Homo sapiens: one gene and its partners. The protein of the gene in region 3 purifies or fractionates together with the protein of the main gene of each other region. This does not show direct contact. Each region holds a gene or a part of one and is shown on either strand. Other genes may lie near its edges. The genes, in order: HMGCS1, PAK2, OR10H3 and PLS1.

Evidence for each region.
Region 1: the proteins of OR10H3 (region 3) and HMGCS1 purify together in Homo sapiens (affinity purification with mass spectrometry; 3 studies listed by BioGRID and IntAct, with this or other methods). This does not show direct contact.
Region 2: the proteins of OR10H3 (region 3) and PAK2 purify together in Homo sapiens (affinity purification with mass spectrometry; 3 studies listed by BioGRID and IntAct, with this or other methods). This does not show direct contact.
Region 4: the proteins of OR10H3 (region 3) and PLS1 purify together in Homo sapiens (affinity purification with mass spectrometry; 2 studies listed by BioGRID and IntAct, with this or other methods). This does not show direct contact.

Annotation. Positions count from the first base shown.
Region 1 is NC_000005.10:43,310,413-43,317,450, reverse strand, and holds the start of HMGCS1 (hydroxymethylglutaryl-CoA synthase, cytoplasmic), read left to right. Parts: upstream 1-4,038; 5' UTR 4,039-4,095; intron 4,096-4,269; exon of another isoform or gene 4,270-4,429; intron 4,430-7,038. UniProt on the Homo sapiens protein: Catalyzes the condensation of acetyl-CoA with acetoacetyl-CoA to form HMG-CoA, which is converted by HMG-CoA reductase (HMGCR) into mevalonate, a precursor for cholesterol synthesis.
Region 2 is NC_000003.12:196,742,846-196,749,872, reverse strand, and holds part of PAK2 (serine/threonine-protein kinase PAK 2), read right to left. Parts: intron 1-7,027. UniProt on the Homo sapiens protein: Serine/threonine protein kinase that plays a role in a variety of different signaling pathways including cytoskeleton regulation, cell motility, cell cycle progression, apoptosis or proliferation.
Region 3 is NC_000019.10:15,733,571-15,740,987, reverse strand, and holds the start of OR10H3 (olfactory receptor 10H3), read right to left. Parts: upstream 3,004-7,417; 5' UTR 2,937-3,003; intron 1-2,936. UniProt on the Homo sapiens protein: Odorant receptor.
Region 4 is NC_000003.12:142,683,383-142,690,409, forward strand, and holds part of PLS1 (plastin-1), read left to right. Parts: intron 1-623; coding exon 624-789; intron 790-870; coding exon 871-1,013; intron 1,014-2,901; coding exon 2,902-2,994; intron 2,995-6,235; coding exon 6,236-6,431; intron 6,432-7,027. UniProt on the Homo sapiens protein: Actin-bundling protein. In the inner ear, it is required for stereocilia formation. Mediates liquid packing of actin filaments that is necessary for stereocilia to grow to their proper dimensions.

The DNA of each region.
Region 1 (7,038 bases), on a different chromosome or scaffold from region 3:
GGCAACCAGGAGTCTTGCCCCCACCGACACAGAGCTTTTATGCTGTAGTTGGTCCAACGTTCTGTGGACCACCAAAGAGCAAGGATGGACTGCCCTGACCAGTTTTTGTAATTTCCTAAAACCACACATTCATTTTACTAAACGGACAGCCCCCAATAACTGTCAGCTAAACCAGTGCAATCCTATATAGGTTATTATCTTGAGCCCCCAAAGTTCTTCCCCTTTTCTAAGCCAGTTCCCTTCTTTAAGCCGATTTTATGGCATGTGGGCTAGATGTCAGGGACAGACCCTATTGGATCCTTGAAATGCATTTCTTTGATCCCCTGCCACCTGCACCTGCCTTTAAGCCTTTTTCCAAAACCTCTCACAACGGAACCATTGTTCCTCCTCCATCTACCGACAAGGCCAAGATAGCGATGGTAGAAGTTAAAGACTTAAAACAAACTTTGGCAACTGAGACAGGATACCAAGATATAAATGCCTGGGTGGAATGTATCAAATATTCCATCCACACATTAAACAAAAGCAATTGTTATGCTTGTGCACATAGCAGGCCAGAGGCCCAGATTGTCCCCTTTCCACTAAGGTGGTCCTCCAGTCGACTCGGCATGGGCTGCATGGTAGCTGTTTTCCAGGATTCTACAGCCTGGGGTAACAAGTCGTGCCAAGCTCTCTCTCTACTATATCCCGAAGTCTGACACCCTGTGGGTCGCCCCCAAGGGCCATTCAGCTTCCATCTCCCAACACCAAGTTCACTTCGTGTGTCTCACAACAGGAAGGAAACTTAGCATTCCTTGGAGACCTGGAGGGATGAAGTAAGCTTAAGAATTTTTAAGAGCTTACCAGTCAGCCCTTGTTCATCCCTGAGTGGATGTGTGGTGGTATTGTGGTGGACCTTTACTAGACACTCTGCTGAATAACTGGAGTGACACTTGTGCTTTAGTCCAGTTGGCTATCCCTTTCACCTTGGCATTTTATCAACCAGAGGAAGGAAAAATAAGACATCATAAAGCGAGAGAAGCCCCTTATGGGTCTTTCGACTCTCACGTCTATTTAGATGCAGTTGGAGTCCCACAGGGAATACGAGATCAATTTAAAGCCCGAAATCAAATAGCTGCAGGATTTGAGTCAATATTTTGGTGGGTGACAATTAATAAAAATGCAGATTGGTTAAACGACATCTATTACAACCAACAGTGATGTATTAACTACACTAGAGATGCTGTTAAAGGAATAGCTGAGCAATTAGGGGCTATTAGCCAGATGGCTTGGGAAAATAGGATAGCCTTAGACATGATATTAGCAGAAAGAAGATGAGTTTGCGTTATGATTAAAACTCAATGTTGCACCTTCATCCCAAACAACGCCACCCCTAATGGAAGTATAACAAAGGCATTGTGAGGTCTGACTGCTCTATCCAATGAGTTAGCCAGCAACTCACGGGTAAATGATCCCTTTACAGGATGGCTAGAAAAGTGGTTCGGTAAATGGAAAGGAATAATAGCCCCAATTCTTACCTCCCTCATAGTCATAATAGGTGTACTTATTCTTGTCAGGTGCTGTGTCATACCATGCATCTGTGGGTTGGTGCAGAGGCTCATAGAAACGGTACTTACTAAAACCTCCCTTAACTATCCTCCACCTCATCCAGAAAAGCTTCTTCTTTTGGAAAATCAAGCAGAACAACTAAATCAAGACATGTTAAATAAGTTTGAAGAGAAAGCTGTAAGAAAAATGCAAGAGGAGGAAGTTGTTAAATATGAATTCTAAATTTCTCTTCAAAGAATTAATATGTCAGTATGTTCCATTCTTTGCCTTCTACTTTTAAACGTAGCTTCCTAGTAAAGCAACCTTTTCTGATTACCTACTCCAACCTGACTCATTCTCCACCTTGACTCATTCTGATTACGTACTCCACCTTGACTCATTCCAATTCATTCTTCACCCTGACTCATTTCATAACCATTTTTCCCGCCATCACTGTCTTTAAATTAGTCCATCGGAATTAGTTTAGCCTGTGCAGTCTAACCCTAGCCAATAAGGGAACGACACAGCAGTGGGGACCACGTGCGTCAGGAATAAGAACCCCTTTCCCTCCCTCGTCCAAGTGTGCACTCACCATTGCTCCATCTGTAAGGGTGCACCCTTCTATAGAAGTACCTTGCCTTGCTGAGAATTAAAAAGAAAATTTTATATTCGACTGCTATTTCTTTTGCAGCATGGAAACTTTATTTATAACAAGATCTTCTGTATCTAATTACTAACCCTTTTTGTTCTCCATTGCTTGGCTTCCCAGTAATCAATAATCATGCTCACTTTGCTTAATTGAAGATTAACGTGATCAAAAAGACGGTCTGTTCCTTGTAGAAATTTCCGGTTGTGTAAGATGGTCATTCTCATGACCGTCTGGCTAATCATTTCCCATTATGTACTCCTGGAGTTGGAATTATTTGCGATTCCTAACGACAAAACTGTATCTTCTTTCTTGTGTTTGTCCTTACTGCCTTTCAGCATATTCCAATATGCCAAGAATTTTAATCTCCTACCCCACCCCAAATTGCTGTTGATCATAATCAGGCAATGTCTCTCTCTCTGTTTACTATCTAGTTACTTTACATACATATGAAGTGAGTCATGGGCAATACTGTGGAATGGAAATCATTACTGAGTGGTCCTCTTCCCCCAAGTCATTTATGCCACCACTTCACAGTGGTTCCATTTCCAATATATTTTGCCACTTTGCTGCTGAGAATGTGTCTTACTAGGTTAGCATCTATAGTGGTTAAAAGAATCTCCCATAACAATAATTGTGTGAATCACAGAATTACCAATGACCCCTTATCAATAGCATTCCTGTTAATTAAATTGAGATGGGGAGAGATACAAACAACTCCGAACCTCACTCATGGTCCCCCACCAAAGCTAAGTATTATGGCTTCTCTCTCTGACCAGATAGAGGCAGAGTTTATTGCAAAGCCACAAGTGTCCTCCTTTGGATTCCCCCAAATAGTGTTTCAGTGAATTCCTCTAGCTTGAATTGCTCCTCTCTATTTGCTGGGGGAGTTAGGCAGTCCGTATCCGATGGATTTACTATGCCGACAATTACGTGGCCTTTCCACAGCCTTTTACTTGGCAGGTACCACATATGAAGCTTAGAAGATACAGTGGGCAACAGGCCAAATGGAGTCCCTTTCCTCAGAGTGCATGGCCTGGCAAAAATCCTTGAATTCAGTATCAACTTCCCTTCACAGGCAAGGCTCTGCACCCTCCCCACGGATGCCTAATCCTGAAACCATTTTGTTTTAGGTTTAGTTAGAAAGCTTTGTCTCAAGAGCACTTTTGTTTGTTCTGTTTTCTTTAAGTCAAGGTAGTTTTGAATAAAGGAGACAATATTTGAGTATTTACAAATCGGGTATTTAGACTATTTACACATATACAAGTTCTGGGTGAAGTATTCTGCTCCAATTTGCAATCTACGCACACTTTGCTAGAAAACGTTAAGACTGAATTCAAATCAAGTACAGTATTTCAGAAATCTTTCAGGTGAAGCCTAGTTCTGGTTGCTAGGCAACCTGACAGACTCCCAAGCTGGGACCACCTCGCCTCCCACATTTGACCATCTCTCCAGCGGTGGGACGCGGAGTACCCATTGGCCCGCATCTCCTCTCACTTAGTCCCAATTGGTCGGAGAACCTCTCACTCCGCTCCCGTTGGCTCTCGCCGTATCTCGCAGCTCCGTCATTGGCAACTGGGCTCTCGTGCCACCTCACGTCAGTCTCTCACACCACTTCCTCGGCCCTGAGACTTTGTCCCCGCCTCTTCTCCCCGCCCTTCCAGCCACGAGGGAAAATCCTAGCGAGTCATCGCCTCTAGTTTCCTTTTGATTGGTAGAAGCCGGACTGGGGGGCGGGCGCTGCCGGGCAACTCTACCGGCCGCGATTGGCTGTGGGAGCCACCGTCCCGCCTCCCAGCGACTCTCGGCGGTGCCGGAGTCGGGTGGGTTGGCGGCTATAAAGCTGGTGGCGAAGGGGAGGCGCCGCGGACTGTCCTTTCGTGGCTCACTCCCTTTCCTCTGCTGCCGCTCGGTCACGCTTGGTGAGTGTCCCGCGCTGGGGAGTAGAACTGGGCTGCGGAGGTGCCGCGGGCGGGGTGTGGGCCAGACAGAGGCGGTGTCCTTGACTAGGCCCGAAGGAGCTGGGGCTCTGGGTCAGGACGTAGGCGTGGACTTTGCCCGGGAGGATGGGGCACCGTGAGCGGGGCCGGGCGGGGGTTCCCTCGTGAGGGACCTGAGGCCGACCGTAGCGGATCTGAGAAGATCCGAGAACACAGGCGAGTCGCGGAGGGGAGAACGCGAGAGGGCGTTGAGGTCTAGGTATTCTAACGACAGAGGAGTTGGAGGTGCCAGAGAGGCAGCTGTGACCGCCTAGAGGTGAGTGGGGGGTGTCAGGAGGGGGAGAGAAGACAGTTGGGCTACCAAGGCGTTTCCAGAGCGTTGGTTAAGGGTGGACGCCAAAGGATGGGCAAGATCCTCTTTAGACGGAGGCTGGTAGGTTCGCAGGGGGTGTGTCCTGCTGCCACATATAGAGTTGATGGAAAGAAGGGAAGTGGGTAGCATTACTTTTCTTCCTCAGCTCAGGTGCAAGAAAGCGTTCACAACCGTGATTTAGACCTGGCTAAGTACTGGGGCTCAGTCTGTACTTGCTTCAAATCTCATAGATCACTGCCTCCCGCCTTCCTGCCTCCATATTTTTTTTTGTCTACGTTTTAAAAAATAGGCTTCCTTGGTGTTCTGAAATCCCACATCTCTCTCCTACTAATACCTTCGGGACCAGCTTTAGGTGATACAGTGTAATGGGCAGGCACTCACAGAGTCCTCCCACAAATAGGTTTTGGATTAAGCTAAGGATATTTCAAAGCAAGTATATGGAGTCTTTGAAAACCCACGTCTGGCCTTGACCAGTGGTAGAGAAACGATTATTCTGATCCACTCTGGAGGAGGGATTTGGGGAACAAATAATGTGAGGTTGTGCCTGTTTGTCATGCTTGTCCCTATGGCCTTAGCCTTAAGGCATCAGTAGCTGCTTTCACTGCTCACCTCTGCTGCAGCTCCCCACCTTCCCGAGGATGCTCTTGCCACCTGCTGCAGTAGGATGATGTGTTCTGGTTGCTGCTAACTAACATTTGCTCTGTTTTAGGCATGAATATGAAAAACAATGACAAGATAAACAACAAAATTAAGACAAATGGAAGTGCTCCTAGAGTTAACAGATTTTTCCTTCTGAGATGTGTTTTGGACTTTATTGCACAGATACTATTAGATGAGAGGCAGTTGAAAGTCGTTAACATTATCCGTGTCAGTAGTTCTTTGCACTTGAGACACCTAAGCAGCTTGTGTTCTTTAAACTTTATTTTAAAATTGCAGTTATTTTTGTGTGAAGAAGGGGGCAGGGATAGCATACCTTATGGGAAGAGAGAAAGGCTTTCTTTGTGTCTACCTTTGTAGATATTTCTCACCTAAGTTTGTAAGTTTGCCCTTTATTCGGTTCTACTTTAGTTCAGCTCAATTCTAGTATAATCATCAGTAACCCCAGCACTCAGAAGGTCTGACTTACGCTGTGGGGAGGGAGTGTAAAAGGATATTTTATGTTTGGAGCCATAGGCCACATCATTTGGGCCTTGTTTTAATTTTGTTTTTCATCTTAAATATCCCTCCAGATTGCTTTTACATCTTGTTTCTTTTAACTGTGGATTGATTTTGAGATTTTGACTTAGATTTTAGATAGCTTTTCTCAGAAGAAATAAACGCAAAAACCCGATATTGTTGTAACATCAGTTTCCTGTGTCCTCTAGAATCATTTAAAACCTGGTTGGATCTTCCATAATCCAGTGGAATTGGATATGAGATGTAGCTGGAGAAGTTTGTTTTGCTACATATCAGAATCTCCAATTAGTTTCATTTAGAAAGGAATATAGCCTTATAATTTTATGCTGGGTTACTGTGGAACCAAATATCATAGAAGGATGTGTGATATTTTTATGTTTTTCAAGAAGGTAGTATAGATTTAAAAGGTGGGATACATATTACCTGTCCTAATGATAGGACTAGATTTTTTTTTTTTTTTTTTTTTGGGGAGACAGAATCTCGCTCTGTCGCCCAAGCTGGAGTGCAGCAGCGTGATCTCGGCTCACTGCAACTTATGCCTCCCAGTGATTCTCCTGCCTCAGCCTCCCAAGTAGCTGGGACTACCGGCATGTGCCACCACACCCAGCTAATTTTTTTGTATTTTTAGAAGAGATGGGGTGTCACCATGTTGGTCAGACTGGTCTTGAACTCCTGACCTCAAATGATCCGTCCGCCTTGGCCTCCCAAAGTGCTGAGATTACAGGCGTGAGCCACCATGCCTGGCTAGAACTAGACTCTTAATCTCTTCATCCTAATGCATGGCGTGTGTTGATGTTCACTTAATGTCTGTCAACTGGGTGTAGTTACACCAGTAGCGGAGAGGCTAATCTTTGAAAGCCTGAAGTGTTGTCTTCATCTTTGCAGGGTTTTTAGTTGTGGGTGCATATGGGAATGATTGTAAGACCAACAAATGTTTTCTGATTCCATATGGGCTTCTTACATTTTTCACCTTGGAATCTGGGAACAATTGAAACCTACCATATGCCTTGAACAGTAGCAGTAAAGAGCCAGTTTCTTTAAACTAGACATTATGGTGCTGCAGCTCATCTCAAAACTGATAGCAGGCTACTCTGGACACACTACATATAGAGTAGCCCTGCTCTGCAAGGAGCAGTAATAAATTAAAAAAAAAATTAAAAAGTGATAGCAGAAAGCACTTACTACTGAGGGCTGCTACAAGTATTAAATCTAAAAGATTTGTCCTCTAGTAGTTATAACTCCAAATTCAGCCACTGAAAAATGTGACATTTGAGTACCCTTTACTTCAAGGTCTCAAAGGGATTTCAAAAAATCAAAATATATAGCCCCTCTCCCAAAAGAAGTGTAGGAATCCTGTATGGATAAGAAGACTGCCC
Region 2 (7,027 bases), on a different chromosome or scaffold from region 3:
TCCAGCCCAGGCAACAGAGCAAGACTCTATCTCAAAAAAAAAACAGAAAACAATGAAACACTACTACCTATTGGAATGGGTAAAATCCAAAACAATGATAACATGACATGCTGGAAAAGATGTGAAGCAACAGGAACCCCCACATCCATTGCTGGTGGGAATGCAAAATGGTACAGCCACTTTGGAAGAAAGTTGAACAGTTTCTTACAAAATGAAATACATTCTTACCATACACTCCAGCCATCATGCTCCTTGGTATTCACCCAAATCAGCTGAAAACTTATGTCCACCCGAAAACCTACACATGAGCACTTGAATAGACATTTTTTCAAAGAAGATATACAAATGGTCAATAAGTACATGAAAAAATGCTCAACATCACTAACTGCTAGAGAAATGCAAATCAAAACTAACATGATACCACCTAATACCCATTAGGATGGCTACTATTAAAAACAACAACGGTTGTGTTAAAAAGGATGTAGAGAAACTGAACTGCTGTGCGCTGCTGGTGGAAACGTGAAGTGATACAGGCGCTGTGGAAAGCAATACGGTAGTTCCTCAAAAAATGAAACACAGAATTATCATATGACCCAGCAATTCCATTCTGGGTATGTACCCGAAATAACTGAAAACAAGGTCTCAAAGAGGTATTTGTACACCCATGTTCGTAGTAGCATTAATCTCAGTACCTAAATTACGGAAGCAATCCAAGTGTCTACTGATGAATAAATGGACAAGCAGAATAAGGTAAATACACACATGGGAATACTATTCACCCAAAAAAAAAAGAAAAGAACTTCTGACATGCTACAACACAGATGAAGCTTGAGGATAAGTGAAATAAGTCACAAAAACACAAAATATGATTCCACTTACATAAGGTACATAAGAGTAGCCAAAATCATGCAGACAGAAAGGAGAATGAGGAGTTATGGTTCAATGGGTATAGAATTTCAGTTTTGCAGGATGGAAAGTTTCGGAGATGGATGGTGGTGATAATTGCACACTATAAATGTATTTAGTACCACTGAACTGTATACTTCAAAATGGTTAAGATGGTAAGTTCTGTTACATGTATTTTACACCACAATAAAAAACTCCACACATCAATGTTTACAGCAGCTTTATTCATAATCACCAAACCTGGTCCTTCAATAGGTGAATGTACATCCAGACAATGGAATATTATTCAGTGCTAAAATGAAATGAGCTATCAAGCCATGAAAAGACACGGAAGAACCTCAGATGCATACTGCTAAGTGAAAGAAGCCAAGTTGAAAAGGCTACACGCTATATAATTCCAACTACGGGACATTCTGGAAAAGGCATTGCGATGGAGGTAGTAAAAGGATCAGCGGTTGCCAGGGGTTGCAGTAAAAGTGGGAGGAACAGGTGGAGCAGAGAGTTTTAAGGTGCGGAAACCAGTCGGTATGATACTGGTGGAGACATGTTGTTATACATTTGTCAAAACCCACTGAATGTACAATACCATACGAGCAAACCCTAACGTAAACTGTGGGCTTTGGGCAGTGATGATGTGTGAATGCTGGTTCACTGACTGTGCCAAATATACCACAGTGATGCAGGATGTTGATGAGCAGGAGGCTTGGAGAAGAGGGGCATGAGGAGCATGGGGTATATGGGAACTCTGTACCTTAGGCTCAGTTTTGCTGTGAACCTAAAATGCTGCAAAGTCTATTAATTAAAATGAATAAAAATTTCTAAAAATCATTAGAAATAAGAGAGTGACACTCAACCAACACATACTTATTTCATACCTATTTGTTCAAAGCTCTGTAAAACAGAATAGTATATTAAAGAAAACCAAATAAATGAAAAAGAAACTTCAGATGGAAGTGCTATAAAGGAAAATAAACACACTGAAGGGCAGGAAGTTAGATGCGGAGTGGGGGTAGGCAGAGGTGATCATGAAAGATCTCTTTCAAATATGGCCTCAGTGACATTCAGGCAGAAGAAATAAAAATCTAAAGGTCCCAACGTGAGAACAAGCTTCTCAGAAACAATGCTACCTCTTTGTCTTTGGCAGATTAGGAAGATTTTTACATTAATAAGAATTATTAATAACGACTATAGTTCTTACTAGGACTAATAAAGACTAAGTCCTATATTTAGTAAGAACTATTTATAAAAACTGGTAATTCATACAAATAATCTTAGTCATTAAATTTAATCAATAGGTTATGTATAAAACTCTGTATATTACCAACAGAAAATGTTCTAAGTTTTCATAGAACATTTTCCAAAATGGATTATGTTTTAAGTCACAAGAAACACTCAATAAGTTTAAAAGATATTTTAAAAGATTATAGAAGCTGACAACAATGAAAGAAAATATGAGTGAATAGAATTATCCTAAATACCTCCTGAGTCAAAGAGGAAATCAAAACTAGAACCACCAGCTATTTGGAAAATACTGAGCAGAAGAACATTGTCCATGTAAATTAGAATGTGCAGCCAACGCTGCATTCAAAAGCAAATTAAGAACATTAAAGGTTTTTATTATTAAAAGACATTAAAATGAACTAGCTTTGCACAGTGGCGGTATCGTAGCCAATGAGGTCTATCCGAGGAGCGATTACCGCTCATCGAAAACACATTAAAGGAACTAAGAATTCATTAAGAATTAATAACATTAACATTAACTTAATGTTAACATTGTTAACAACAAAAAAAAAAAGCAGGAGAGCAAAATAAAGAGAAAAGTAGAAATCAGGCATTCAGAAAACAAACAAAAAAAAACCAATACAATAAGTAAATCTCAAAGCTGGTTAGTAAAAAAAACCACTAAGTAGACAAACATTTGGCAAATTCAGAAAAATAGTGAAATCACTAATAAAAAAAAGGAAATGAATACCACAGATCTTAATGACAAAAGATTATACACACCTATATAGTAACAGATTTGAAAATCTAAAAGAAATGATCTAGGAAATACGAATTATCAAAAGTGACTCATGAATAAGGATTCCTGAATAGGTTATAGAAGTTAACTACAGAAGTTATCATAAAGGCCTATCCTTTTTTTTTTTTTTTTTAATGAGACAGAGTTTCACTTTTGTTGCCCAGGCTGGAGTGCAATGGCACGATCTCGGCTCACTGCAACCTCCGCCTCCCGGGTTCAAGCGATTCTCCTGCCTCAGCCTCCCGAGTAGCTGGGACTACAGGCACCTGCCACCACACCTGGCTAATTTTCTATTTTTAGTAGACACAGGTTTCTCCATGTTGGTCAGGCTGGTCTCAAACTCCAAACCTCAGCTGATCCACCTGCCTCGGCCTCCCAAAGTGCTGGGATAACAGGCATGAGCCACTGTGCCCGGCCTATTCTTATTAATCTAAATTTATATGAGATTCTCCTCTAACCTTTCAATAAATTCCGTACGCAGGACTAATATGAGTGGGATTTTGGTTATTCACGATATATACCTTGTGATACCTTTGATTAATAGCAAATTTACTATTACATATCCTCAGCAATAGTTAAAAGAAGAAAACCATATCATCATCTAAATGTTACAATAGCATCTCATAAAATTCAGAAGCCATTCCTATTTTTTGTAAAGCAGAAACAGAATAAAATAATAATCTTTCTCTAAATCCAACAGCTGCCATCATCCCTAACTGTAAAAATATTAATACCAGAGTCATTTCAAGACAACGACACGTCTCTTGTTTAACCAAGTCTTGGAACTTCAGGCCAATGTAATAAAGACCTAAAACAGGGTTAAGGGCTGGGCACGGTGGCTCATGCCTGTCCAACACTTTGGGAGGCTGAGGCAGGCGGATCACGAGGTCAGGAGATCGAGACCATCCTGGCTAATACGGTGAAACCCCGTCTTTAAAAAAGAAAGAAAAAGAAAAAAAAAAAAGGTTAAATATTGTAACCATAGAAAAGTGACTGAAGTTACTATTATTCTCAGATAAAACAATGAACCTGGAAAACAAAATAAAGACGTTTACTGAAGTCCAGTAAGATAATAAAAATACCAATGAACAGAAAAATCTAGTTACTACTTCTTCTTTTTTTTTTTTTACTTAGAGATGGAGTCTCGTTCTGTTGCCCAGGCTGGAGTGCAGTGGCTTGATCTCAGGTCATTGCAACCTCCGCCTCCCGGGCTCAGACAATTCTCCTGCCTCAGCCTCCGGAGTAGCTGGAACTACAGGTGTGCACCACCACACCCAGCTAATTTTTTGTGTTTTCAGTAGACACAAGGTTTCACCACGTTGGTTAGGCTGTTTCCAACTGCTGACATCAGGTGATCCACCCACCTAGGCCTCCCAAAGTGCTGGGATTACAGGCGTAAGCCACTGCACCCGGCCAAATATTTTTATACCTGTATTTTATTTCTGTAGCAAAACTATTTTAAAACTCTTTTATCCCCACCAGGCATGAAAAAATTCCAGAAAGATTAAGATTGAAACACAATGGGCTGGGCACGGTGGCTCACGCCTGTAATCCCAACACTTCGGGAAGCCAAGGCAGGCAGATCACCTGAGGTCAGGAGTTTGAGACCAGCCTGGCCAACATAGCAAAACCCCGTCTCTACAAAAAAAAAAAAAAAAAAAAAATCAGTTGGGTGCGATGGTATGGTGCCTGTAATCCCAGCTACTCGGGAGGCTGAGGCAGGGGAATCACTTGAACCCGGGAGGCGGAAGTTGCAGTGAGCTGAGATCCAACACTGCACTCCAGCCTGAGTGACAGAGTGAGACTCTGTCACAAAAAAAAAAAAAAGATTGAAACACAATAATTATTAAAAGTACCAGAAGAAAACACATAAGAATGTTTTTTGTAAAGGTGGAATGAGGAAGATCTTAAACAGAAGGCAATAGATTAATATCTATTACATGTGAAGAGCTTCTACAACTCAATAAGGAAATATACATTACAAGTCTTTTTGGAATGCAATTCAAAAAAAAAAGAAAAAAGAAATTTAAATGCACACTTACAAGTCGTTTTAATGGAAATACTTATCTACATATGCATGTGCACAAAGACATACGTATAAGTTCATTAAGGCTCTAGTTTTAGTTGCTCAAAGTTAGAAATAACATAAATGATCACAAATAATTAAAGTACTACCATACAGCATAATATCTAATGACTTAAAAAGTAGAGGTGCCACTATATGTCATGATATGGAAAACAATACTTAATGATCAGATTTTTTATTTTAAAATCAACATAAAAAGTATCCGACACACAAAAGGTACTACTTATTTCTAACTCAGTAAGTAAAACTATTAACAGCGGGTAGGTACTTCTAAGGAATGGGACTAAAAAGAGAAAGTAATTTTCACTTTTTAAGAATTTTATAAGACAGGGTCTTGCTCTGTCACCCAGGCTGGAATGCAATGGTGCAATCATAGCTCACTATACCTCCAACTCTTGAGCTCAGGTGATCCTCCTGCCTCAGTCTCCCAAAGAATTTTCACTCTTTAAATATTTAATTGACTTGTTTGAACCTTTTATAATAAATATGTACTGCTTTTAGAATTTAAATTTAAAATAAGGAACAAAACCACTGTTCCAGTTTGTTACAATGGTTCTGCCAGCTGAGACTAAGGTAATTTTGTCTTAAAAGTTTTTACCACTTTCCAAATTTCTTATTTAATATTTTTTTCTACTTTTATTTTTGTCTGATTTAAGAGATGGGGTCCCCCTGTATTGTCCTGGCTGACCTCAAATTCCTGGACTCAAAGGATCCTCAGCCTCCCAAGTAGCTAGGACTACAGGCACCACCAGCCACTGCCCACTTTTCAACTTTTATACAGGAAATATGCATATTTTTAAATCTGAGAAATTTGTGTTCAAAAACCCTATGTTTTATTTCAGTGGTGAAACTATTACATATTTTTTCTCCTGAAAAATTACATTTTATTCATCCAAAAGTAATTTTTATTTTTAGTTACGGTCTCAGAAACTTCGTTCTTTTAGAAGGCAGTTTTTTGTTTGTTTGTTTGTTTGTTTTTGAGACGGAGTCTCACTCTGTCACCCAGGCTGAAGTGCAGTGGCGCAATCTCAGCTCACTGCAGCCTCTGCCTCCTGGGTTCAAGCAGTTCTCCTGCCTCAGCCTCCTGAGTAGCTGGGATTACAGGCGCCCGCCACCACGCCCAGCTAATATTTTTATTTTTAGTAGAGAATACTAAATTCTCTACTAAAGAATAGTAGAGAATATAGGTTTCACCATGTTGGCCAGGCTGGTCTTGAACTCCTGACCTCAAGTGATCGGCCCACCTCAGCCTCCTAATGTGTTGTGATTACAGGTGTGAGCCACCGCACCCGGCCTAGAAGGCAGTTTTAATTCTAAGTTTAGGAGTATCGACTCTACAGCATGTAAGAACAGACTATTAACTAACGTTTATTAAGACCTATAATTACAGAATCCTTTACCTGCATTCCCTCATTTGATCTAAATATCCCTGTGAAATTGGTATTATTATTATTATCCCCATCTTACAGGTGAGAAAAGCAAGTCTTGAAAAGAATGTATATCTTGCCCAGGGTAAAGTAGAACAGCAAGAATTCAAACGCAGGACTCTAGCTCCTAACCACATGGGATACATGGAGTAAGTACTAAAGAAACTCAGAGATAGTAGGCTGGAACACTGAAATCCTGAATGAATGTTCAGACTGACTACCCTTAACCAGGCAGGTGACCCTAGAAGGGAAGAAGTGATGAAACTCAACTCTGATCACAGAAGAAAACAACCAGTATTTTATTTTTTGGGGGCAATGAGGGATTTTTTTCCTTTCCTATTCTGCTCTGTTAAGGCACAAAAAGGATACTAGGAAGAGCTTGGACACACAATTTGCAATTAACACCCTCCCTCTGATTAGTCTGGAAACTCAACTCTTATACCAAACTGATGGAAACCTTTACGACTTAAAGTCTTGAAGTTGACCCAGTTTCTTTTTCTTTTTCTTTTTTAATGAGACGGAGTCTCGCTCTGTAGCCCAGGCGGGAGTGCAGTGGCGCGATCTCGACTCACTGCAAGCTCCGCCTCC
Region 3 (7,417 bases):
TTGTCTTTTAATTGCTTATTTAACCCGTTTACATTTATTTTAATACTCATTTATTGATACTCATTTATGCCATCTTATTTCAAATTACACATTTACTATTCTAATAAATCTGAATAGAAAATTCAAAAATAAAAGGATGGGTAAATATATGTCTGAAGAATATGCACCAAATGAAAGCTGAGGCTGCAACCTTAATAAAAAAGTGGAATTTAAGGAAACAATGATCGCAAGGTCTCTAATACAATACACCTCTACAGGGAAGTAGAGTTCCTTAACACATGGCTGATCTGTGGTCTGGACATGGAAGAAAGCCTTGGACATCTTCTACCAGTGTAAAATGAAATTTTCACTAAGTAATGGGATAATATTAAAAGCCTGCAGGTACCAGATTGAAAAGATGCCCACTAGTCAAAAACAATAATCATTGTACAGAAGATGGAGGAACAAGCTAAATTATATAATGAGAAAGCTTTCAGAAAAATCCAGAAGGTGGATAATTCCACAGAACAATTGGTCTGGTTTCACTGATAGAGGTATATTGAAAGGATAAGAGAGATTCCAGGACATAGTAACTGGATGCAACATAGGGGACTAGTTGAATCTTGATCTACATAACCAGCTGTAAGTATTTTAAGGCAATAGAGAACATTTTGATTACAGTATGAATGAATGATTACGTATGAGTAATATTAAAGCATTATTATTGATCTAATTGTGAATTTTTTAGAGACAAGGTCTCACTCTGCCCCCTAGGTTACAGTGCAGTAGTAGGATCATGACTCACTGCATCCTGGAACTCCTGGGCTCAAGTTATGCTTCTTCTCAGTCTCCTAAATAGCTGGACTACAGATGTGTGCCACCTCACCTGTCTAATTAAACATTTTTTTTTTTTTTTTGTAGAGACAGGGCTTTGCTTTGTTGCCCAAACTGGTCTCTAATTCCTGGCCTCAAGCAATCTTCCTGTCTCAGCCTCCCAAAGTGGTGGGATTATACACATGAGCCACCATGCTCAGCTAATTATTTTTGTAAGTGTTATCTGGTTATTTTGACTATGAAGGTAAATGTTTAGTTTTTCAATGCATACCAAGATTTTTACATCTCACACACACACACATGCACACACACTAAGGGACAGAGAATAACATTTATACCCATTAAAAGAACATAGCAAACAGCATCAATACTATAAATCCATGTAACTATATATCCTGGAATATTCATTAACAAATAATCAATACAACTTCAGTGAGATAGATAGAAATAGCCAAATCGACGGCAGATTGATTATTTTTTTTTTGAGACGGAGTCTTGCTCTGTCACCCAGGCTGGAGTGCAATGGTTCAATCTCGGCTCACTGCAACCTCCCCTTCCCAGGTTCAACTGATTCTCCTGCCTCAGCCTCCCTAATAGCTGGGATTACAGGCGCGTGCCACCACGCCTGGCTAATTTTTGTATTTTTAGTAGAGGCAGGGTTTCACCATGTTGGCCAGGCTGGTCTCAAACTTCTGACCTCAGGTGATCCGCCCACCTCAGCCTCCCAAAGTGCTGGGATTACAGGTGTGAGCCACCACACCTGGCAGATAGATTATTATAGTTAGAAATTTTAACAGAGTTCAGAAATGCAATTTATTAATTATTAATTACAAAGCAATTAATAATATCCAGACATTAGCTATTATATATATTAGACTCTTCACCAAAAAGAAAATTAACACTCTTTCAACCACTCAGCGACTTTTACAAAAATGGACATTTCATTAGAATATAAAAATTTATTTAATTCCAAAGCATAATAATATGATATAGATTATAATGAATTAACATTAAAAATCAATAGGGAAGAAATAGCTTTACAAATCTCATGTGTTTGGAAGATAACTATATAATTAAATAATCTACAGTTTCAACAGTAAATCATAAAATGGAGGAATATTTAGAATTAAATGATAATTTAAATATTGAATGTCAACATTTTAACCTAAAATAGTACTTTGAAGGAAATATACAGCTCAAAATACCTTTATCAAAAAACTGCCTCAAGAAAAAAATCATGCATAATAAAATCAAAATCAAGTTATTGGAAAAAATTAATAAGATAAACAAGGAGAAGGTACCAATAACAGAACCCAAAATTACAAATGGGAAATAATTACAGAGATAATTGATATTTTTAAATTAATAAAAATAGTAAAAGAAATAACAAATTTACATTGTAGATGAAATGAACAAGTACTTAGAAAAATATAAAATTCCAAAACTGGTGCAAGAAAAAAGGGGATGCTATATGCTCAAATAAGCTTTAAAGAAATTGAAACGGTAGTCAAAGATCGTCTCTCTAAAATCTTTGCCCCAGTGGGTTTTATTAAAGTGCGGTAAGTACTATTAAACTGTTAAAAAAAAAAACAGTTGGTTAGAATCTTACACATGATCTTCAAAAAAATAGAAAAGAGTTAGGAAATCTGACAAACACATCTCCTCAAGTTAATGCAATCTTTGTCTAAAATCAGGCAAGAATCTTCACCGAGAAAAAGAGACAATTATAGGCCTACTTCACCTATCCAGGCAGATTTAAAATTCCAGAATAAAACATAACCTATTCAAATCTAATGGTGTATTAAAAATAGTTTACCATGATCAAGTGGCATTGGTTTATTCCATAAATGACAAGATTGGTTAACATCAGAAAACCTATCATACAATTTATCACAGGAATCGATTTAAAAAGAAAAATCATGATTATTTCAATCAAGGCATAAATACATTCTCTAAAACCCTACTCCTATTATGATTTAAAAAAAAACACTTCACAACACAAAATCCAAGGAGACTTTCTTAACTAGATATAGAATATATAGCACAAATTAGCAAATACAACACTGAAGAAGAAACTTTTCCATGCATCACTTTAGAGTCAAGAAAAAGCCAAGGATACTCACTAATTCCGCTGTTCTTTAACATGGAGCTGAAATTCGTGAGTGATGGTATAAGGTAAGGGAAAGAAACAAGTTATCTAAGGTATCTAAGGACTGGAAGGGAAGAGACGTGATCATCTACCTAGAAAAGATGAAAGAATGATGACATCATGTATTAGAACAGCAACAGAGCCCAGTGATGCAGAAGGCAAGGTCAGCTGGCAAAAACCCCAGTGATCCTCCTAGTATCACACCAGTAACAAGCATTCAAGAAGTATAATCTGAATACAGAGAAAGAGAACAGTCCCAATAGCAACACAAACTATTAATATAAAGAAACATCGCTCAGGATCCCTTTACACCTCAAAGTTACTAAGCACTCTAAAGGGCTTTTGTTTATGTGGTTTAGAACTATCCATTTTTACCATATTGGAAATGAAAATTGAAAATTATTAAAAATATTTAGTTATTAGTATATTTAAAAAAGCATGCCCAGGCACGGTGGCTCACGCCTGTAATCCCAGCACCTTGGGAGGCCGAAGTTTGTGGATCACTTGAGGTCAGGAGTTTGAGACCAGCCTGGCCAACATGGTGAAACCAGGTCTCTACAAAAAATACAAAAATTAGCTGGGCATGGGGGCACGCGCCTGTAATCCCATCCACTTGGGAGGCTGAGCCAGAGAATCACTTGAACCCGGGAGGCGGAGATTGCAGTGAGCCGAGATCATGCCACCGCACTCCAGCCTGGGCAACAGAGTGAGACTTCGTCTCAAAAAAAAATTTCTAAAGAGCAATAGTAAGTCTATTGAATGCTAATATGGGAAACATTTTCAGGCAAATAATCACATTAGGAAAAAAGCATTTCATGAGAAGAGTGGCCTTGTTTGACATTTTAGCCAATACCTCATATGTCCTAGCTTGGCAGGAAACAGCTTGATGGTTTCATCTGCCTCTTCATTCAGTCTGTGGCAATATATTGAAGCATATGATGAAAATATATTCTCACATGTAAATTTGAAAAATAAGGATTTCAGGGACCACTCTGCAGAGGTCCTCATGTCACACTTTGAAAAAATCTGCTATAAAATATCTAGGAATTAACCAAAAACATGACATAGCTCCAAAGAAAAAATTTTAAATACATACTAATAAAAATGTAGAAGATGATCTGAACACATGGGGAGCAGTATAGAGTCTTGGCTGGGATGGCCTGATGTGCTAATGGTGTCAATTCATCCTCAAATTATAACCTCAATACTTAATAATACTCAATAATATAATATTGTATTATATTTACAATTCCAGTGAATCAACTGTAAATTTGATAAAACTATTTGAAAATTCCTTCAGAAAAATAAATATCAGGCCAGGCACGGTGGCTCACACCTGTAATTTCAGAACTTTGGGAGGCCGAGCTGGGCAGAACACTTGAGGTCAGGAATTCAAGACCAGCCGGAGCAACATGGCGAAAGCCCGTCTCTACTAAATATACAAAAATTAGCCAGGTGTGATGGCCCACTTGTAATCCCAGCCACTTGGGAGGCTGAGGCACAAGAATTGCTTGAACCTGGGAGGCGGAGGTTGCAGTGTGCTGCCTGGGTGACAGAGTGAGACTCTGTCTAAAATAAATAAATAAATAAATAAATAAATATGGAATCAAGGGAAGAGCTGTTCCCTCCCACGCGCTGAGACACACAATAGAGTCATAGTCATTTTTAAAATTATGAAACGTGGAACAGACCTAGGTCTGGGTAAGTCGATTGGAAATCTCAGAAAATAACCCTGCATTATTCAAAACCTAATATAGTACACGATAAATGTACTGGCACAAATCAAGAGGAGAAGGTAGGTTGTTCACCCATTGTAGTGAGAAAACTGCTCATTTTATGAAGCAAGTCAATCCGAATTTCTGCCAAACTCTACATACAAAGGAGGATCCAGATGCATTCAAGAAATAAATACCAAATATCAAGGTGTAAATTTAAGAGAAGAAAGTATAGGAGAATAACTTTGTGATCTAGGCTTGAGGAAAGACTTCCTAAACAAAATTTCCAAAGCACAATCATTAAGATGATTTTTAAAACATTAAAAAAATCAACATTGAGGATTTCCATTCAACAAAGGATTTCCAGGATGAAGTTAACAGGCAGATGGGAAATGGGGAAAAATTATTTGCATTGTCTAAAACCGACAGGAGCACATCCAGTGGTGTGGGGAATTTCTTAAAAACTGACAAGAGAGTTATATCTAGAACAAACAAGGAACCAGTTATATCAAGAAGAAGTAGGTATCTTAATGCAAAAACGAGCAAAAGATGTGAGAAGATAATGCACAGGAATTACTCAGGCAGATGAAAGGATGCTCGAAAAAAAAGAAAAAAGAAAAAGAAAACAAAAAGGAAAAGAATGGAGGGAAGGGGAAAATGAAAGAGAGAGTGGAATTTCACTGTATACCTATGCAATTCCCAAAATTATAAAATGTCCAGTATTGGTTGGGCTATGAGGAGAAAGAAATATTTACGCACTATAGGCTGGGCGCGGAGGCTCACGCCTATAACCCCAGCACTTTGGGAGGCCGAGGGAGGAGGATCACATGAGGCCAGGAGTTTAAAACCAGCTATGCCAACATGGCAAAACCCTGTCTCTACCAAAAAGACAGAAATCAGCCAGGCTGGAGGTACACATCTGTAATCCCAGCTACTTGGGAAGCTAAGGCATAACAATCACTTGAACCCCTGGAGGTGGAAGTTTCAGTGAGCTGAGATGCCGCCACTGCACTCCAGCCTGGGCCACAGAGTAAGACTCCATCAGAGGAAGAGGAAGAGGAAGAAGAAGAAGCAGAAGGAGAAGGAGAAGGAGGGGAAGGGGAAGGGGAAATACTTACATACTATTAGTGGGCATGTAGAATGTTGGAAATTAAAATTTTTAATGGGATTCATGCTCTGTGTACCAGCAAATTTGCTACTGTATATCTATCTTGACTTCTGAAACCTGTTTATAGGGGGACATGTAAAAGAATGTTTCCTGCAGCAGTTATTTTAGTGGGGGTGATGGATAAGCCTGCTTGTCCCTAACTGGGGAGAAGGCAGGTAAAAGTATATAGAGGCAAACAACGGATATAGAGGCAAAAGGATATAGAGCTTTTGTCACGAGTTAGATGCACACATAGTAATATAAATGAACTTTTAAAATAATATTGAGTGAAAAAAACAAAAAAACAGAATGAACTCTTGTGGACACATTAAGAATATATGTACATAAAACTATTCTGAATGATATAGTAATAATGAACCCATGTCATTTGTCAAAATCCATATACACAATGCAAAGAGCATAACCTAATACAAACTATGAAATTTAGTTAATAACAATGCATCAATATTGGTTCATCGAGTGTAACACAGGTGATACAGAAATGCAAGATGTCAATAATAGGAGAGACAATCCCACATGCAGGGGTGAAGCGTATGTGAGAACTCTCTATACTTTCTGATCAATATTTCTATAAAGTTAAAACTGCTCTAATAAAATTAAGTCCATTAATTTACCATTTTAAAATAGTCACATTAAATTTTGTGCAGACAGAAAGCAATGTGTTTCTTACAAGAACATATACAAATCAAAAAGTGCATACTAAGTGTGTGAAAATGCCTGTCAAAGAACGGAAACAAAGTGAAACAAATGAAATAAGAGAAGGATCTTTCGCAAATCAATGTTAATCAAAAGCCACAAACTGAAAATATCATGGACTCAAACCTTTGCACCTGAATTCTACCATAAAAGAAACAAATATTTTTATGAATAATGTGAGCCACATTGCTACAAGAGTTTCTGAAATCTTTCTTTCTGGATGGGCCCATTCATCATTACATCCCCCTAGCAGTCTCACTAGGATATTGTCTGAAGTATCCCCTGACCAAAGCAGGAGTCAGTCAGGCGCTTGGAGAACACAGAATCACCCGGACAGTGAGGAACTTTACTGGAGTGAGGATGACGTATCCCACATGAAAAGACCACACTTATGACACGGAAGGAAAGTCTTCTGACCACGAAGCTGCCCTACCCAGAAACCATACTCCAGCATCAGCCATCTTCCTTCCCCATCCCTCCCATTGCTGGGCGCCCTCTCTCCTACTAAGCACTTCTCCATCTGCTCCCTTCCTCTCCATCCCCTCTCCTGGGCCACTGCCCCATCCTCCTCATCTCCTCTCCTCTGCACACACTCCACTCTGGCTTCCAGAGAGAATTTCCTGAAATGTTTACAAGTTGTGGAGGCATCAGACTCAGGGTGGAAACCCCAGCCATCACTGTGTGTCTTTGGAGAAACGACTTTGCAGCTTCGAGGCTACTCTCCCCAAGTGAAAAACAGGAGTAACCAGAGCACTGTGAGAGTCCACCTTGCAAAAGTCATTGTCATTGACTGATAATGATTTTGGTCTTCTGAGCTGGTTTGTTTGTGTTGTTCTGTTACAAATGTCACTTGCTGACCCCATTCTAGGCTAATTC
Region 4 (7,027 bases), on a different chromosome or scaffold from region 3:
AGTCTCAGCTACTCAGGAGGCTGAGGCAGGAGAATGGCGTGAGCCCAGGAGGCGGAGCTTGCAGTGAGCCAAGATAGTGCCATTGCACTCCAGCTTGGGTGACAGAGTGAGACTCCGTCTCAAAAAAAATAAATAAAAAAGAGGATGGGCTCGGGAGACCGCTGGGATCAGACCCCGGCCTTTCCACTGTGGAAACTGTCAGTGCTGCAGTTTCCTCATCTGTAAAATCCATCTTAAGAGTTACTTTAAAATTATCTTAAAACCTAATTGTACATCATTTTTTAAAGAAGTGCTTCCAAATGAGCACTTTACAAAAATATCATGTTGAGTTTGAGGTATTGGCAGAACATCCAGGTAGACATAACCAAGTACATATATAGATACACAGCTTAGAGTGGAGACTCAGAGGAGGTCTGGGTGGAAATAGGGATTTGAAAGTCATTGGCATATAAAGTAACAGTTAAAACCATGTGTTTTTTTTTTTGAGTAGTGGTATTTTCGTTGTATAAATATTATGTTTATAAATCTGAAATTTGGCAGTCCATTGTTTCTTATAGATAATTTTTATAGATAAGACCTTAGAAAGGACTTCCTCATGTGTACTTTTTTTTTTGGCAATTCAGGAAAATTTAAACCTAGCTCTGAATTCTGCCTCAGCCATTGGTTGTACAGTGGTCAACATTGGTGCATCAGATCTCAAAGAAGGAAAACCTCACTTGGTCTTGGGACTTCTCTGGCAGATCATCAAAGTTGGCCTTTTTGCTGATATTGAGATTTCCAGGAATGAAGGTAAGATCATTAGAAATATTTGCTGTTCATTGACATGTACTTGCTATGGGAAGAATTTACATTTCGCTGTTTTGCCCTCAGCTCTGATTGCATTGTTAAATGAAGGTGAGGAACTAGAGGAGCTGATGAAGCTTTCTCCCGAGGAATTACTGCTGCGATGGGTGAACTACCATCTGACCAATGCAGGATGGCATACCATCAGCAACTTCAGCCAAGACATTAAGGTTTATATTTAAATGTTCAAATTTGTGACATGAAATAAGGATGTGCAGTGTAAAAATAAAAGGGGTTCAGACTTAAATTTGAATTAAATTCACAAGAACACTTGGGATAGAAAATGAAAATTTGCATTACTGTGTGAAGTAGATCCCCCAATTATATTCACAAAATATATATTTTCTAAAAACCAGATATATTGGCTTTTAATAAGAACTACAACTGACTGTGAGAGGAAAGAGGTGCTAGCCTCAACAGATTAAAACACACTTTCTCATTTTTTATGCCTGAGATCTGCTAGATTATAATGAGGATGTCAGTCTGTTCATTTGGACTAATAATTATATCTGTTTACTGGTTTAACACTCTTACTCCCACTTTGCCAATAACCAGCTAACAGGAAATCAGATTATCTGAGGGTACAGAGAATCAGTAAATAAAGGGGATCTTAAGGTATGTGCCTTAACCAGGGTAGCTTAAAACACTTCCCTCTCTACTGGGAGAATCTTGTCAAGGAAACTATAACAGGCATTTTTGTCTAATGACAACTTTCCCTTGGTTACTGCCTGGATGGGCATTGCCAAGCCGGGTCGCTGTGACTTTTTTCTTCTCTCTGTTTCTTTATGTCCTCCCCCATCCTGCCCCCCAAGAGTAATCAGTGCTGGCTCTAATTCATGTTCCGTCTTTAGCTATATAACCTTCAGTCAGGTTATCTTTTTCCATAATGGCCTACAGGACAGTCTCTCAATTTGAAGTGACATTTTATTTCTCTGCTTTCATCTACTATACACTGTTATATTTGAAAGTTTATTTGGGAGATTTCTCTTATTCTGAAATCTCTGAAAATTCAGCTAATCAAACATTTATTCAGCTCTTTCTGAGGGGCATTATGCCCAGGCGATGCAAAGACTCAGCTCTTGAGAAGCTTGCCAATTCTACTCAGAGACAAACATGTACCAGAGGGATATTTCAGTTATCTATTGCTATATAGCAAATTATGCAAAATTTGCTTAAATAATGATTATTTCTCATCATTTTGTGGGTTGATGCATCTTGGCTGGGTGGTTCTTCTGCTTCACATGGTTTTGGCTGGGATTACTAACTCGATTACATTCAGCTGTCAGTTGGGCTCATCTGGAAAGTACACAAAGGCCTCAGTCACATGTCTGGTGCCTCAGTGCTCCTCCACAAGGCCTCTCTACATGGTGAGCTCAGGCTTCCTCACAGCATGATAGTCTCAGATAGTTGGACTTCTTATGTAGAGGTTAACTTTAAGAGAGAGGAAGCAGAAGCTCTTAAGATTTGGGCGTGGAAGCCCCAGAACATCACTTTCACAGCATTCTCTTAGTTAACGTGAATCATAAGGCCTGTCCAAATTAAAGAGGACAGGAAATAGCTTCTGCCTTTTGGTGGGAAGAGTTAATGTATGCATGGGGAAGAACTATATATCCATCTTTGGAGACAATGACATTAGATGATTTAATAGTGTGATCACTGTTTACTTATTAAGATAGGCAAGGGGTGCTGTGCACTACAGAAGAGGGGTTCTTAGTTCATCCTAGAGAATCCAGGGAAGGCATACGGGAGATAATACTTGACCTGAATCTTAACTGATGTTGATGCTTGGGTGTGTAAACAGATGGAAAAGTAAGGGAGGGTATCCAGGTGCAGGAAACAGCATTGCTATAAACTCTGAGGTGTGAAACAGGATTGCTTTGAAGCTCTGAAGTGTGAAACAGCATGGTACATTCAGGAACCTACAAGTAATTCTTTATTTTTAAAGTTATTCCATTCTTTGAGATAGAGGCAATTTCTTCAGTTTGAGCACTTGTTTTCCCTAAATTCAATGATGATTTTATTCGTTTTAAAAATGCTATTTCATATCTTTCCTTGAAGGACTCGAGAGCCTATTTTCATCTGCTTAATCAGATTGCCCCTAAAGGTGGGGAAGATGGACCTGCCATTGCCATTGACCTTTCAGGAATTAATGTGAGTGCAATTTTTAACTTTTAAAATATATTGTGGTAAAACAGACGTAGAAAATTTACCATTTTTATCATTTTCAGTGTTCAGTTCAGTGGCATTCAGTACATTTGCATTGTTGTGCAGCTATCACCATTATCCATCTCTACAAACTTTTCATCATCCTGTAGGGAAATTCTGTACTCATTAAACAATAACTCCCCATTTTCCCCTTCCCCCAGGCCCTGGTAACTACTGTTCTACTTTTTGACTATGAATTTGAATTTCAGTAGCAGGTACAGTCAAATTTAGAGTACAGTTCTCTACAAGCAGCATTCCCCAGTAGAGCCCTCAGCCCTCCATTAAAGTTTGGTGCTTTGCTCTATGGAAGTTTTTTCCATGCCCAAGGCTCCAAGCCTCCATGTCAAGCCAACTGGCTATCATGACGGAAGAAAGGGAACTGCGTAATTGTGACCTGGAGTATTTGTGGAATCAATCCTACATTCATGTTTCCCTGGTGCAAGGCAATTGGAACTCACCAGGGTGCTCTTTTGACTGTCAGCATATGCCAGGAAAGGAAGCAACAACCTGTTGTTAGATTTTTAAGCAATCAATTATCAGTTTTACCAGCTTATATTTAGAAATCTACAAAATAAAAATAGATATTCATGGTGTAGGAAGGACTGATACAGATTCTGACCTACCAAGCATACTTCCTAGGAATCTCATTCTTTTAGCATAAGTTATAAATACCAGGGATGGTTCTATCTAAATCAGGATGTCCAGTCTTTTGGCTTCCCTGGGCCACATTAGAAGAAGAATTGTCTTGGGCCACACATAAAATACACTAACACTAACAATAGCTGATGAGCTAAAAAAAAAAAAAAGGTGCAAAAAAATCTAGTGTTTTAAGAAAGTTTACAAATTTGTGTTGGGCCACATTCAAAGCTGTCCTGGGCCGCATGTGACCCACCGGCCGTGGGTTGGACAAACTTGAATTCTAAACATTAAAATTTGGTCAGATAATAGACTGTATGAAAATATATCACGTACTTAAAGTGCGGCGTCCGTAACATTTGGTTTTAAAGGCAACTTGAGTCATTACTAATTAATTATATCTCACATTATTATAATGACATATTTCAGAAACACAGTATTGCAACGCTCTGTAAAATGTGCAAATCATTTTAAGTAAAAAAATTAGGAACTTAAACTTATGGAAAATTTTGAATATATTCAAGAGAACAGACTTAGTATACTAAACTATCAGGTACTCATCCCTCAGTTTCAACATCTGCCAATTCATGGTCAATCTTATCTCGTTTATTCCCTATTTCTCTCCTCTCCTATATTATTTTGAAGCAAATCCTAGACATTACTTCATGGATAAATATTTCAATATATATTTCTAAAAGACAAAGACACTTTTAAAATAAAACCACAATACCTTATCATACCTTAAAAAAATTACAACAATCTGTAACATCATCAAAATATCTAGTCAATGTTGACATTTCCACTTGCCTCATAAATGCCATTTTTTTCATAGTTTATTTGAATTAGGATCTAAAATAAGGTCCACATGTTGTCTTTATTTGTTTGTTTTTTTTTTTTTTTAGATGGAGTCTTGCTCTGTCGCCCAGGCTGGAGTGCAGTGACACAATCTTGGCTCATGGCAACCTCCGCCTCCTGGGCTCAAGTGATTCTCCTACCTCCACTTCCTGAGTAGCTGGGATTACAGGTGCACACCACCACACCTGGTTAATTTTTGTGTTTTTAGTAGAGACGGGGTTTCACCATGTTGGCTAGGCTGGTATCAAACTCCTGACCTCAAGTGATCCGCCTGCCTCTGCCTCCCAAAGTGCTGGGATTACAGGCATGAGCCACCACGTCCAGCCACATATTGTCATTTTTTGATGTCTACAATGGTAACTTTTCTTTGTTAATTTAATAATCTGTTGCTTTCTCTGATTTCATTTATATGATTAATTATTTTGCAACTCTGGTGCACAGAATTAGGTAGGTTATCTTTGGTCATGATATACTCATATGGGTCTGTGCATACCCATTTTTAAATTTATTTTTGTGTGTGGTTGTTTGTTTTGAAATTGTAACAAGCCTCATGAACTCTCAATCTAACAGGAAAACTAAAACTTTGACGTGACATTTTCTGTACAGTTCTTCCCTATCCCACCTCGGTTTTCGCCCAGTGTGGTAACCACAGTCTTGAATCTTGTGTTCATTGTTGTTCTGCTTTTCTTTTTATGTAGTTTCCCTTCATCCAAATGTATCCCTTACAAAATTAAATTCTTCATTTTACTTTTTAACTTCCTTTAAAGTTTATCATGTTATACTTAAATTTCTAGTACTTCTTTTTGGCCTTGTATCTCTAAGAGTTACCCATATTGGATGTCATTGTGTGAATATACAAATTCATTCATCTACTCTCCTGTTTATAGGTATTTGGGTTGTTTCATTTGTTTCCAGGGTTTTGCAATTGTGAAAGGTGCTTTTCCCTATGATTTTAATTTTTAAAATATGTATTTCAACTTGTTTTTCATCAAGAAGAGCCTTCTGGAAATGTCACTCAGTGTACAGTGGGTATGATAACTATGCCTGTTATCCAGAGGGCACTCTACTAGCTGGTCTTGAATAAGTTATCTATAGTGCAACCAGTAGGAGCTTACTGATACAATATTTGAGGATTTTGCTGAGTATTTTAGCAAAAAGGGTAAAATATAACTCAGTTATCCCAGCAAGGAAATTCAGAGACTTTTTTCCTTTTAACTTAAAAGGCACGGGGGCTGGGCTTAGTGGCTCACGGCTATAATCCCAGCACTTTGGGAGGCCGAGGTGGGCGGATCAGGAGTTCGAAACCAGCCTGGCCAACATGGCAAAACCCTGTCTTTACTAAAAATACAAAAATTAGCTGGGCATAGTGGCATGTGTCTGTAATCCCAGCTACTCAGGGGCTGAGGGAGGAGAATCACTTGAACCTAAGAGGCAGAGGTTGCAGTGAGCCAAGATCACGCCACTGCACTCCAGCCTGGGGAACAGAGCAAGACTCTGTCTCTAAATACATAAATAAATAAATAAATAAATAAATAAAGGAATGGGTAAGTTGACTTGGAATTACTACACATTTTGATCTTATTTTGAGTTATTATTTGATATATTTGTGGAAAAGTAATTGCTTATAAACATGTATACCAATAAAAATTATGCCAATTAAAACTTCAATTGTAACCATTTTTGTTTTATTGTTTAGGAGACAAATGACCTGAAGCGTGCTGGACTCATGCTTCAAGAAGCAGATAAACTGGGCTGCAAACAGTTTGTTACTCCTGCAGATGTGGTTTCAGGCAATCCTAAACTTAATTTAGCTTTTGTAGCTAATTTGTTTAACACATACCCGTGCCTGCACAAGCCGAATAATAATGACATCGATATGAATTTACTGGAAGGTGCGTTCTTTCTGCCTTTAATTGACTTGCTATATTTATCTTCTTATGGTATTGTCTTACTTCACTGTCAGAGATAGGGGATTGTGGTGGGAAATGCAATTTAGTGTGTGTAGGTATGTGTATCTATTGAAAAATTAAAATTATGGAAGGTGGTTGCTGGTTTTGGTTAAAAGAGAATGCTGGGGTAAATCTTTTATTTCTCCATAAGAGGTTAGTGAAAACTATCATACATTTAAAATATTCTCATAAATGATCACATAACAGCTCTACCACCAACATGGACAATGAATTATCTATTAGAATAAAATAATTATTTGTAGGTGTTTTTCTCCTTTGAAAGGTCCAGTTTGACTCTAGTATTGTTCTCTTTTTAAGGTTTTTAGTGTACATGAAAAAAATTACAGTGTTCGTTATTTGTCTTTTGTGTGGTCTATCGTTATCTGTCTCATAATATATAATACTTTCCTGTTTTGCTTCATGAAATGCAGATTTGACCCCTCCTAATGTAGGTACTGTATTTAGTACTTTTCTATACTCTATAAATATATTCATTCTGAATGTTCTTTTTATTAGTACCATTTATTCTTTCCATCTGG